Linked DNA regions of Homo sapiens: region 2 is linked to region 1. The links come from fine-mapping of genetic effects on gene expression. A gene starts in region 1. The other region holds a variant in brackets. All regions are shown on one strand. Distances are between the middles of the regions.

Evidence for each region.
Region 2: its variant is fine-mapped to the expression of GPLD1 in tibial artery (GTEx, PIP 0.96).

What each region holds. Positions count from the first base shown.
Region 1 is chr6:24,487,441-24,492,679 of GRCh38, forward strand. It overlaps GPLD1 (glycosylphosphatidylinositol specific phospholipase D1), which reads right to left and starts at 2,138. Exons shown (of 25, transcript NM_001503.4): 1 at 1,975-2,138. The coding sequence starts at 2,071.
Region 2 is chr6:24,432,800-24,438,038 of GRCh38, forward strand. GPLD1 (glycosylphosphatidylinositol specific phospholipase D1) reads right to left here. Exons shown (of 25, transcript NM_001503.4): 21 at 4,314-4,490; 22 at 3,777-3,937; 23 at 564-590; 24 at 388-438. Among named protein-coding and RNA genes, the nearest start is that of MRS2, 32 kb to the left of the region's middle. The variant C/T (reference allele first, on the strand shown) is at 2,337.

The DNA of each region.
Region 1 (5,239 bases):
CCATTAGGACCTTTGTTTGGTACTTAATGAAGAAGGGCAAGCAATTATCTGGTTTTATTAAAATTTCAGATGCAATCTGTCTTGTAAATTTTTAAACACTAAGGATTAAAAATGGAGTATTTCCATTTATATTTGTTCCTCATCAGCTTACTCTGTAGTTTTGGCAATTTCAACTTCACAGAACATAGAACTGCAAGACACTTTAGAATTCTTTAAGAAGTTCAACCCCCTCATTTTATAGAATTGAGAGGTAGGTAAAAAGTGAATTGCTCAGAATCACACATCTACTTTACTGGATGGCTGGAACTAGAACCTAAGTCTGATCCTCTTTTCCATTGTTTCCTGACTCCCTTCTAGCAGTACATTTTTAATGGAAAGAACGCCGGACCAGCTGTCAGGACATGTAATTCTAGGCCAGGCCACTGAAAACTTAGCTGTAAAACTGTCTAGTATCAGTTTCTTCATCTGTAAAAGAAGAGAACTGGACTCGGTGACTTCTAGTGTCCTTTCAGATAGTCAAATTCTGTGATAACAGGTTCTTGCCCATCGTAGCTCAGTATATATGTCTATTTTGCACTGATAAATTTTCATTTTTTGCCTATAATCTTATTATTCTTTGAAACTTCTGGAGGTGGTACAACTATAAAATTCTGTTATAATTTTTATCTAAATTAAAGAAAACTCAGGCCAGGCGCGATGGCTCACGCCTGTAATCCCAGCACTTTGGGAGGCCGAGGCAGGCGGATCGCAAGGTCAGGAGATCGAGATCATCCTGGCTAACATGGTGAAACCCCATCTCTACTAAAAAAAAATACAAAAAAATTAGCCAGGCGTGGTGGCGGGCACCTGTAGTCCCAGCTACTCGGGAGGTTGAGGCAGGAGAATGGTGTGAACCCAGGAGGCGGAGCTTGCAGTGAGCCGAGATTGCGCCACTGCACTCCAGCATGGCGGACAGAGCGAGACTCCGTCTCAAAAAAAAAAAAAAGAAAACTCAGAACATCAGGTATATCTGAAATTAATCTGAAAATTGCTGTAGAATGTTATCACAGCTAATTCTATTACAAATTGACTCACGTTTTCCATGCGTTAAAACATGTTACAAATACACTTCATACAAGAACCAAATCCTTTTGCTAAGAAAGATCTTAAGTGTTCTCAGCCCATATGCAAAAAACATGGTAGCTATGTGGGGGGGGCGGATGTGTTAATTAGCTTGATTGTGCTAATCATTTCACAAGGCATACATATATCAACACATCATGTTGTATATCTTAAATTTATACAATTTTTGTCAATTATACATCAATAAAGCTAGAAAAATAAAAATTTTAAATAACTCTTTGTGGTGCCATCTCCCTATATCCAGGATGACTCTGCCCTTGCCCCTAAGGTCGGTGGCACTGGCTTGCTGTACCCTTCTGCTCTCCAACTCCTGCCATCTTCCTGGCACCGTGCATGTGGATAACTAAACTCCCTTACTTTCTTGACCTTCCTGAAGCCAAGCACTTTTACAGCAATTTGACTCAGGGACCCACTCCCATGGCCACATATGGCTCTTTACATATACTTGGAAATGCCTGTCCTTGGACATGTAAAAACAACAAAAGTACATTTCTCACTCCTGCCATATTCCACCCATCTTGTTCCTCTCCCATTCTGTCAGTTCTGCTGCCACGTTGCAACCTCTCGTTCACTGAGCCTCTCACTATTTCCCCACCCAGAGAAACACACAGGGGTCCCATGACCAATGGGGCATCAGCTCTCTTTCTTATTTGCCCCTTAACTGAAGTCATGCTGCCAATCCCTATCCCTGGATGACTGCAATCACCGGCTTCTCCTCCCTGCTGTCAGGCCACTCAGCTCAGTGCCCAGGGGAAACTGTATCAATCCACGAGCGGGATTTTCAGTCTCTTCCTTAATGTCTTTGACAGATGTATTGTCCTCTCAACAACATAACAAGACACCAGTACTTACCTATTTCTACGTGTGTTGAAAGGCCACACGGTGAACCTCTATGGCAGAGAGAACCCAACATGATCAGCAGGCCAGGCCACAACCTGAAAGCAGACATGATCTCATTGCCCACCGGCTTCTCTGGTGACGTGGGAATGCTCAGAGCTGCAGCAGCACTGGGACTCCAAAATCCAGGTGCAGACCCACCGCTTCTCTCTAAGCAGGTCACTGACCGAGGAAACCAAGCCTCATTTCAAAATAATATCGTTTTCCAATGAAGTCAACTGTCCAACTACTGTTTAGCTTCACCAGAACAGCAAACAAACTCTGTGCTCCTGGGGGGTGGGGTTGGGAGGATAAACTGAAATCTGAAAAGCCTTAGGCCAGAAGCACTGCATCTTCTGACCGAGGTTTTTTCTGGATTTCATTTTAACATGAAATTTGTGTAGAGATGCAAGCAAAGTTGTCTCCAGATATTTTTTGCTTTCTATAAAAAGGCTCACCTGTGCAGATAGTCAACATATTAGACCACCTCACCTTACAAGGGTGGATCTCTCATGCATCCTTTCTACACATTTATCAGGCTGTCCTGCTTCCTCCGCCTCCCAAGCCACAAGTGCTGGGAAAGTTTTATGGTAATCAGCTGGAACTGGCTTCCTTTTCAGTATTTGGCAACAGATACTGACACTTGTATGGGATTACACAAGAGCAGCCACTCCTGGTCTCTCTACCTCTGGCTGTTCTAATAGGGCTTATCCAGAGCCTGTTGCAAGGTCAGATTCCTGCAGCTGAAGCAAAGATGTCAATTCCACTTGGGAGGTGGAAGGAAGGGGGCAGATTTAGGGCCAAGAAACAGGGTTTGGAAAATGTTAAGCTCACGATATATTATCAGGTACCCACTTACACTTCATCCATGGGAAAAATTAAGCTCTTCATGAAACTGATGGTAATCTTAAAACACAAATTATGCATATTTTACATTAAAAGCAAGAGATGGGCTCCTAAAAGAGTGGGAGGAAATAGTATTCACTTCAGGTTTGCCAAATGAAAGGATGAATAGAAAGTGGGATGATTTGGCTGGGCGTGGCGGCCCACACCTGTAATCCCAGCACTCTGGGAGGCTGAGGCTGGTGGATCACCTGAGGTCAGGAGTTTGAGACCAGCGTGATCAACATAGTGAAGACCCCGTCTCTACTAAAAATACAAAAATTAGCCAGGTGTGGTGGCACGTGACTGTAGTCCCAGCTACTGGGGAGGCTGAGGTGGGAGGATCTCTTGAACCCAGGAGGTGGAGATTGCGGTGAGCCGAGATTGCACCACTGCACTCTAGCCTGGGTGACAGAGCAAGACCCTGTCTCAAAAAAAAAAAAAGAAAAGAAAAAAAGAAAGTGGAATGATTTGACAACAGTTGTCGCCCCAACAGTTTCCCCTGTAAGCTTAACACAGCCATGTGCACAGCCCCAAGGAAAGAAATCCCGCAGCTACCCCCAGACCTGAGGGGCAGTAGGCCCAGCTACTCCTGATTAGTCCAGAGGCCATATGCCTACGTGTTTTGTTTGGCTAACAGGATGTTTTATAAACTTAAATCAAGTTTATGAACTTTTTCTAAATGAGAAAATTCACGTAGAAATCTAGATTTCTGGCTCTCTTAAAAACAAAAGAACTGGCATCATGAACTGACGCTCCCATGTGACACGACAACCAGCTGCAGCCAAAGAGCCAGCTGCCCCCTGATAGAGCATGTCCTGCTCCTCCAGTCCCCACCATCCATGCAATGTGTGCAGGTTTCCACACCCCTTCTGGCCACCAGAGGCCTTTGAGTTTGCCTCCCTGTCACTCTGGGCCTTCTACAGACTGTGCGTGAGGGAGTCACAATTATTAATTGGGACTTTGGATATTGTCTCTCAGAACATCCAAGAGCAGTCAATCAATGGTTACAGGGGAAAAAAATACTGCTAGAAAAGATATCTAACCATATATAATACAACAAACCCATCCAAAAAGCACCAAAGAAATGGGTTCAGAACAGGTGTGGTGGCTCACGCCTATAATCCCAGCACTTTAGGAGGCCAAGGCGGGCAGATGGCTTGAGGCCAGGAGTTCAAAACCAGCCTGTGCAACATGGCAAAATCCCGTCTCTACCAAGAAAAAAACAAAAACAAAAATTAGCCGGGCATGGTGGCATGCACTTATGGTCCAAGCTACTCAGGAGGCTGAGGCGGGAACATCGCCTGTACCTGGGAAGTGAAGGTTGCAGTGAGCTGAGATCACACCACTGCACTCCAGCCTGGGCAAGACCCCACCTCAAAAAAAAAAAAGGAATGGGTTCAGTTACCAAACAATACTAATCCCAAATGTCTCAATTTCTCATTATGCATTTTTTTGTATTTGAGATTCAGAATGACATAAACGTATAAATGTAATAAAATAAGAGGAAATTATTTGCTTAGTGTGATAGTTATGAATATGGTCTTTATATGACAATATTGCTTGCAGTTTTATGAAGTTTGTATTACTTTGGTAACAATAAAAACATCAAAGATATGACTTTAAAGAAAGTTAAAACGTAGCTCACAATATTACTATCTGACAAATAATAAGCATATGGAAATATTTTTCTTTCTGCCCCACACCCCCCTTTCCTAATATAGGTGGCTTTGTTATAAACAAGACAGCATGATTCTACCATTTAGAACTCTTCTGGAAATAGAGACCCAAGGTGAAAAGTAAACATACAGTTACATTAAGGAGTGAGTAGGGAGAATACAGGTTTGAAAGCCAGAGGGTCTCAAGCTTTATGTGGGCCAGTCTAGAAAATGGGGGAGAAGAGGCTGGGCACAGTGTCTCATGCCTGTAATCCCAGCACTTTGGGAGGCCGAGGTGGGCAGATCACCTGAGGTCAGGAGTTCAAGACCAGCCTGGCCAACATGGTGAAACCCCATCTCTACTAAACAATACAAAAATTAGCCAGGCATGGTGGCGCGCACCTGTACTCCCAGCTACTCTGGAGGCTGAGGCAGGAGAATCACTTGAACCCAGGAGGCAGACGTTGCAATGAGCTGAGATCGTGCCATTGCACTCCAGCCTGGGCGACAGAGTAAGACCCTGACTCAAAAAAAAAAAAAAAAAAAAAAGTGAAAGAAAAAAAAGAAAAAGAAAATGGGGGAGAGGATGAATAAGGGTGGGAACTGGGGAGTGGAGGTTCCCAGGACAAGGGCAGCCAAAGGAGAAAGGAGGGAAGAGGTCCCTCTCACCTGATGGTCTTGTCCTTGTAGGCCCTGGTAAG
Region 2 (5,239 bases), 55 kb before region 1:
CACAGCAGACGAGCCCGGCTATGTTCCACTACAGCTGTGTGGGCGCTGAAACTGCACTGCCGTTTAAACTTCATATGTTACAAAACATTCTGTTTTGATTTCTTTTCAACCATCTCAACATGAGCTGACTTTTTTAGTTCATGGCTTTACAAAATTAGGTGGCAGACGACTTGGCCCCAACCCCTGCTGTAGAGGATAAAATAGGAAGAGTAAAAAGGGAAACTTTCCACCAAGGAAGTGATGAGATTATATGTGAATGTTACTTTCTGTGTGTTCCTCTCCTTTTCAAATAAAAATAAAATCTGAAATAAACCTAACAAGTGAGACCACCAAATCCCACCCGTAGTACTAACATAAACATCAATGAAGTTCAGTCCTTGGGCTCACCTTTGCCTTGGACCTCACGGTGATGAGGGAGCTCCCAAACCTTGAGCTGGCCTGTAAAACATGCCGTCTGTTAATGGGCTTTGAAGAACATAGTGTAATACTTTATCCGTTTAAAATAAACCAAGGGGCATTGTTTTGGTAATTTTTCTTTCTTCAGTCTTTCAAGGGATACTTACTTCAGGAGAAATCAATACATATTGGGCCTGAAGAAAAAAATTGAGGAGAGAGACAATGTTATTACTGTTTGTGTGGCTTTTTAAAATCAATTTTAATTATACCCTTATACCCTCATTTCTACTTTTTTTTTTTTTTTTTTTTTTTTTTGAGAAGGAGTCTTGCTCTGTCGCCCAGGCTGGAGTGCAGTGGCGTGATCTCAGCTCACTGCAACCTCTGCCTCCCAGGTTCAAGCAAGTCTCCCGCTTCAGCCTCGTGAGTTGATGGAATTACAGGCGCCCACCACCACGCCCGGTTAATTTTTTTGTATTTTTAGTAGAGAGGCGGTTTCACCACGTTGGCCAGGCCGGTCTCGAACTCCTCACCTCAGGTGATCCACCCACCTCAGCCTCCCAAAGTGCTGGGATTACAGGCATGAGCCACCACGCCCAGCCTCATTTCTACATTTCTTGATTAGCCTTACAAATGTGCATGCCCTTTGACCCCAGAAATTCTACTTATAGAAATACAGGTCAGAAAAATAACCAGATGTATAAAAACATTTATGTGACTATTTACCATATTATTTAAAACAATGAAAATTGGAAATGGCACAATTGACTAACAATGGTTGCCTGAATAATGGGTAAATAAACTATGGTTTGTCTGTAGATAAAATACTCATCAGCCGGTAAATATCATATTATATAAGAATATCAGATAACATAAGAAAATGTTCTCGGTATATTGTTAGGTAGAAAGAAAAATCAAGTTACGGCCAGGCACAGTGGCTCACACCTATAATCCCAGCACTTTGGGAGGCTGAGGCAGGCGGATCACTGGAGGTCAGGAGTTCGAGACCAGCTTGGCCAACGTGGTGAAACCCCGTCTCTACTAAAAACACAAAAATTAGCCAGGCACGGTGGTGTGCGCCTGTAGTCCCAGCTACTCAGGAAGCTGAGGCAGGAGAATCGCTTGAACCTGGGAGGTGGAGGTTTTACTGAGCCGAGATCATGCCACTGCACTCCAGCCTGGATGACAGAGTGAGACTCCATTAAAAAAAAAAAAGTTACAAAATTATGCACAAATTATGCACAATAGGATCACAATTGTTAACCAAAATATGCACGCACATAGTGTAATACTTAAGGGTAGGCTTTAGAATCAGATCTTGGTTCAAATCTCTGTTGTGCCCTGCCTTCCTGGCAGTGTAACCTTGAATAAACTTCCTCGCTGATCTTTAATTTTTTTATTTTAAGACAGGGTCTTGGGCGGATCACGAGGTCAGGAGATCAAGACCATCGTGGCTAACACGGTGAAACCCCGTTTCTACTAAAAATACAAAAAAATTAGCCAGGCGTGGTAGTGGGCGCCTGTAGCCCCAGCTACTTGGGAGGCTGAGGCAGGAGAATGGCATGAACCTGGGAGGTGGAGGTTGCAGTGAGCCGAGATCACGCCACTGCACTCCAGCCTGGGCGACAGAGCGAGACTCCGTCTCAAAAAAAAAAAAAAAAAAGACAGGGTCTCCCTATGTTGCCCAAGCTGGTGCTGAACTCCTGAGCTCAAGGGATCCTCCTGCCTCAGCCTCCCAAAGTGCTGGGATTACAAGCATAAGCCACCACACTCAGCTGAGATCTTTAATTTTTTTAATCTGTAAATGGGCATAATATTAATTTCTTTTTTTTTTTTTTTGAGACAGAGTCTTGCTGTTGCCCAGGTTGGAGTGCAGTGGCATGATCTCGACTCACTGCAAGCTCCGCCTCCCGGGTTCACGCCATTCTCCTGCCTCAGCCTCC[C/T]GAGTAGCTGGGACTACAGGCGCCCGCCACCAAGCCCGGCTAATTTTTTGTATCTTTAGTAGGGACAGGGTTTCACAGTGTTAGCCAGGATGGTCTCGATCTTCTGACCTTGTGATCCGCCCGCCTCAGCCTCCCAAAGTGCTGGGATTACAGGCGTGAGCCACTGCGCCCGGCCAATTTCATAGCTTTTATGGGGATTAAATGATACATAGTTCTTAGCATATGCATACTAAATGCACAATAAATGGTAGTAATTAAATTCATAGGAAAAATACTAGCAGGATCCGCTCTAAAGGTAAGCAGGTATTAGCTCTGCAGAGTGGAATTTTAGGTAGATAATTTTTAATTCTCTTTGTACATTTTTGTATTTTCTAAAATTTCCATAATAAACTTTCACTAATTTTGCAATTTAAAAAATAATTTTAAATTTTTTAAAATAGGTGGGGTACGGTGGCTCATGCCTGTTATCCCAGCACTTTGGGCTGTAATCCCAGCCTGGCCGACATGGTGAAACCCTGTCTCTACTAAAAATACAAAAAATTAGCCAGGCGTGGTGGTGCATGCCTGTAGTCCCAGCTATTCGGGAGGCTGAAGCAGGAAAATGGCTTGAACCTGGGAGGAGGAGGTTGCAGTGAGCCGAGACCGTGCCACTGCACTCCAGCCTGGGCAATAGAGCCAGACGCTGTCTCAAAAAAAAAAAAAAAAAAAAAAAGTTAAATAATGGCCAAATGCTTTAGGCCCAGGAAATGTAACTTAAGGAAACTCACCCAAAAAAGGAATAAACAAAGAAATGAAACAAAAAGCAAAAGAGAGGACGTTTTAATGAAACTCCAGTGGCTGGCCGAGCATGGTGGCTCATGCCTGTAATCCCAGCACTTTGTGAGGCCAGGTAGAAGAACTGCTTGAGCCCAAGAGTTCAATACCAGCCTGGGCAACATAGTGAGGCCCCATCTCTACAAATAATAAAAAGATTAGCCGGGTGTGGTGGCACATGCCTGTAGTCCTAGCTACTCGGGAGGCTGAGACAAGAGAATCACCTGAGCCCAGGAGTTTGAGGCTGCAGTGGGCCATGATCACACCACTGCACTCCAGCCTGGGCAATGGAACAGGAACCCGTCTCTATTTTAAAAAGAGAAACTCCAATGGCCATGGCCTGTTTTCTTTCTTCTGTGCTGTGGGTGCCTAACCAAGCAGTGGCAGGCTGTGTGACCAGGGACCTACATAACACCAAGTCCAGTGGGACTTTAGCTCTGGGCACAAATGTTGCAGAACTGTAAGAACTGCAGGCAGCTGGGGCCCACAAAACATGGACAGATGATGGTGTCCTGACCCTAGGAGGTATGAATTCAGGTAAGCACTTTATAGTGGACATGAGTTAACAAGGAATCAGCAATTAGTGATCCTTTCCCAATAAGTTATAGAATTTTGTAGAACACTTACCTTTTCTTCTGGACATGGAGTTATCCATGATTTGCATTTGCCAGTCATGTCACCAAGGGTGGTCTCTTTGCCATTATATACATATACTCGGCCGTCTTCTCCCCCAATCAGTCCAGAGGTTACATCTGCTATCCTCAGGGGGGCTGCCATGATGATTTCATCTGAAAACAATAAAAACCGACAGAAGGAAGTATTTGACTCCTCACTGTCATCTTTTCCTTGTTCCGCTACTGGATCCTAACCCAACCTCTTACAAATAATATTAGTATCTCCTTTAGTCGGCTGTGATTTCATCCTGGCAAAGGCTTTTGTTTCCTACTTCATTCATCAATAGCAATTACTACAGGTGATTCTCATATTACCAGCTTCAAGAAGTGCAACTCCCTCTCTGGTCTTGCCTCATTCAAGATCTGTCTAAAGGTCCTTGGGCCACTGGGCTGTCAATTATAAGGGCAGAGCCCAGATGACCCAATTAGGGGACCCACCCCCTGGGCAAAGGGACTCAATTCTTGTCAAAGGGTCCTGTTCCTTTCTTACCTAAGCCATCATCATCCAGGTCACTCAAGTGCAGAACGCCACCAAATCGGGAGAAGCGGCGGTCTCCGCTGAAGGTGCTGAGCAGCAGAGGCTGCGCGTCAGATGTGAGTGCGTACATGCGAGTGGCTCCGCCTTGGTGTAGGGTCACGGTCAGGAATGCCACCTTAGACACGTCATCTGAAACGAACCACAGTTCCTGCTGGCCTCACAGAAAGGAAGGCATTACAGAACACGGAATAGCACCCCATCCTCAAGTGACACTGATCACTCGGGATCCTACAGGACAGTCGGTTTCGGAGCTGGTCATCTCCGGCAGTCAGGGAGGTACAACCAGCTTGGGCACCAAGGCACAAACACCAGAGAGCTTCAGTGATTTCCCTCCAGGCAGGTATTCTTTTTTCCAGTCTTATCCCCATAATACAGTCTCCACACAGCCACCTTTTTATTTTCTCGTATCACAAACTAGGTCACCCCCATGACTGACACATCCAAACGCAAGTGGACTCTGGATGGAGTCCAAACTCTTCACAAGGCCTTACAGAATCTGACTCCCACTTGGGGATCTAGCGCCATTAACCTTTTCACCCACACTTCACCAAAATGAACTTAAACCACAGCCCAATCTATGTCTTAAATTTGGGCCTTTGGACATGATGTGCTCTCTGCCTGGAATAGAGGCATATGCTCCGCGTGCTCCCCTGTCCACATCCCTCTGCTGGCTACTCCTGTCACCCTGCAGAATTTGGCTCAGGTGTCCCCTCCTCTGGGAAGCCTTTCCTAATCTCGCTGGTCTAGAGAAGAGGCCGCTTCCCTGTGCTCCCATACATAATAACACCGAGTCCAGTGGGACTTTAGCTCTGGGCACAAACGCTACAGAACTGCAAGAACTGCAGACAGCTGGGGCCCACAAAACATGGGCAAGTGAT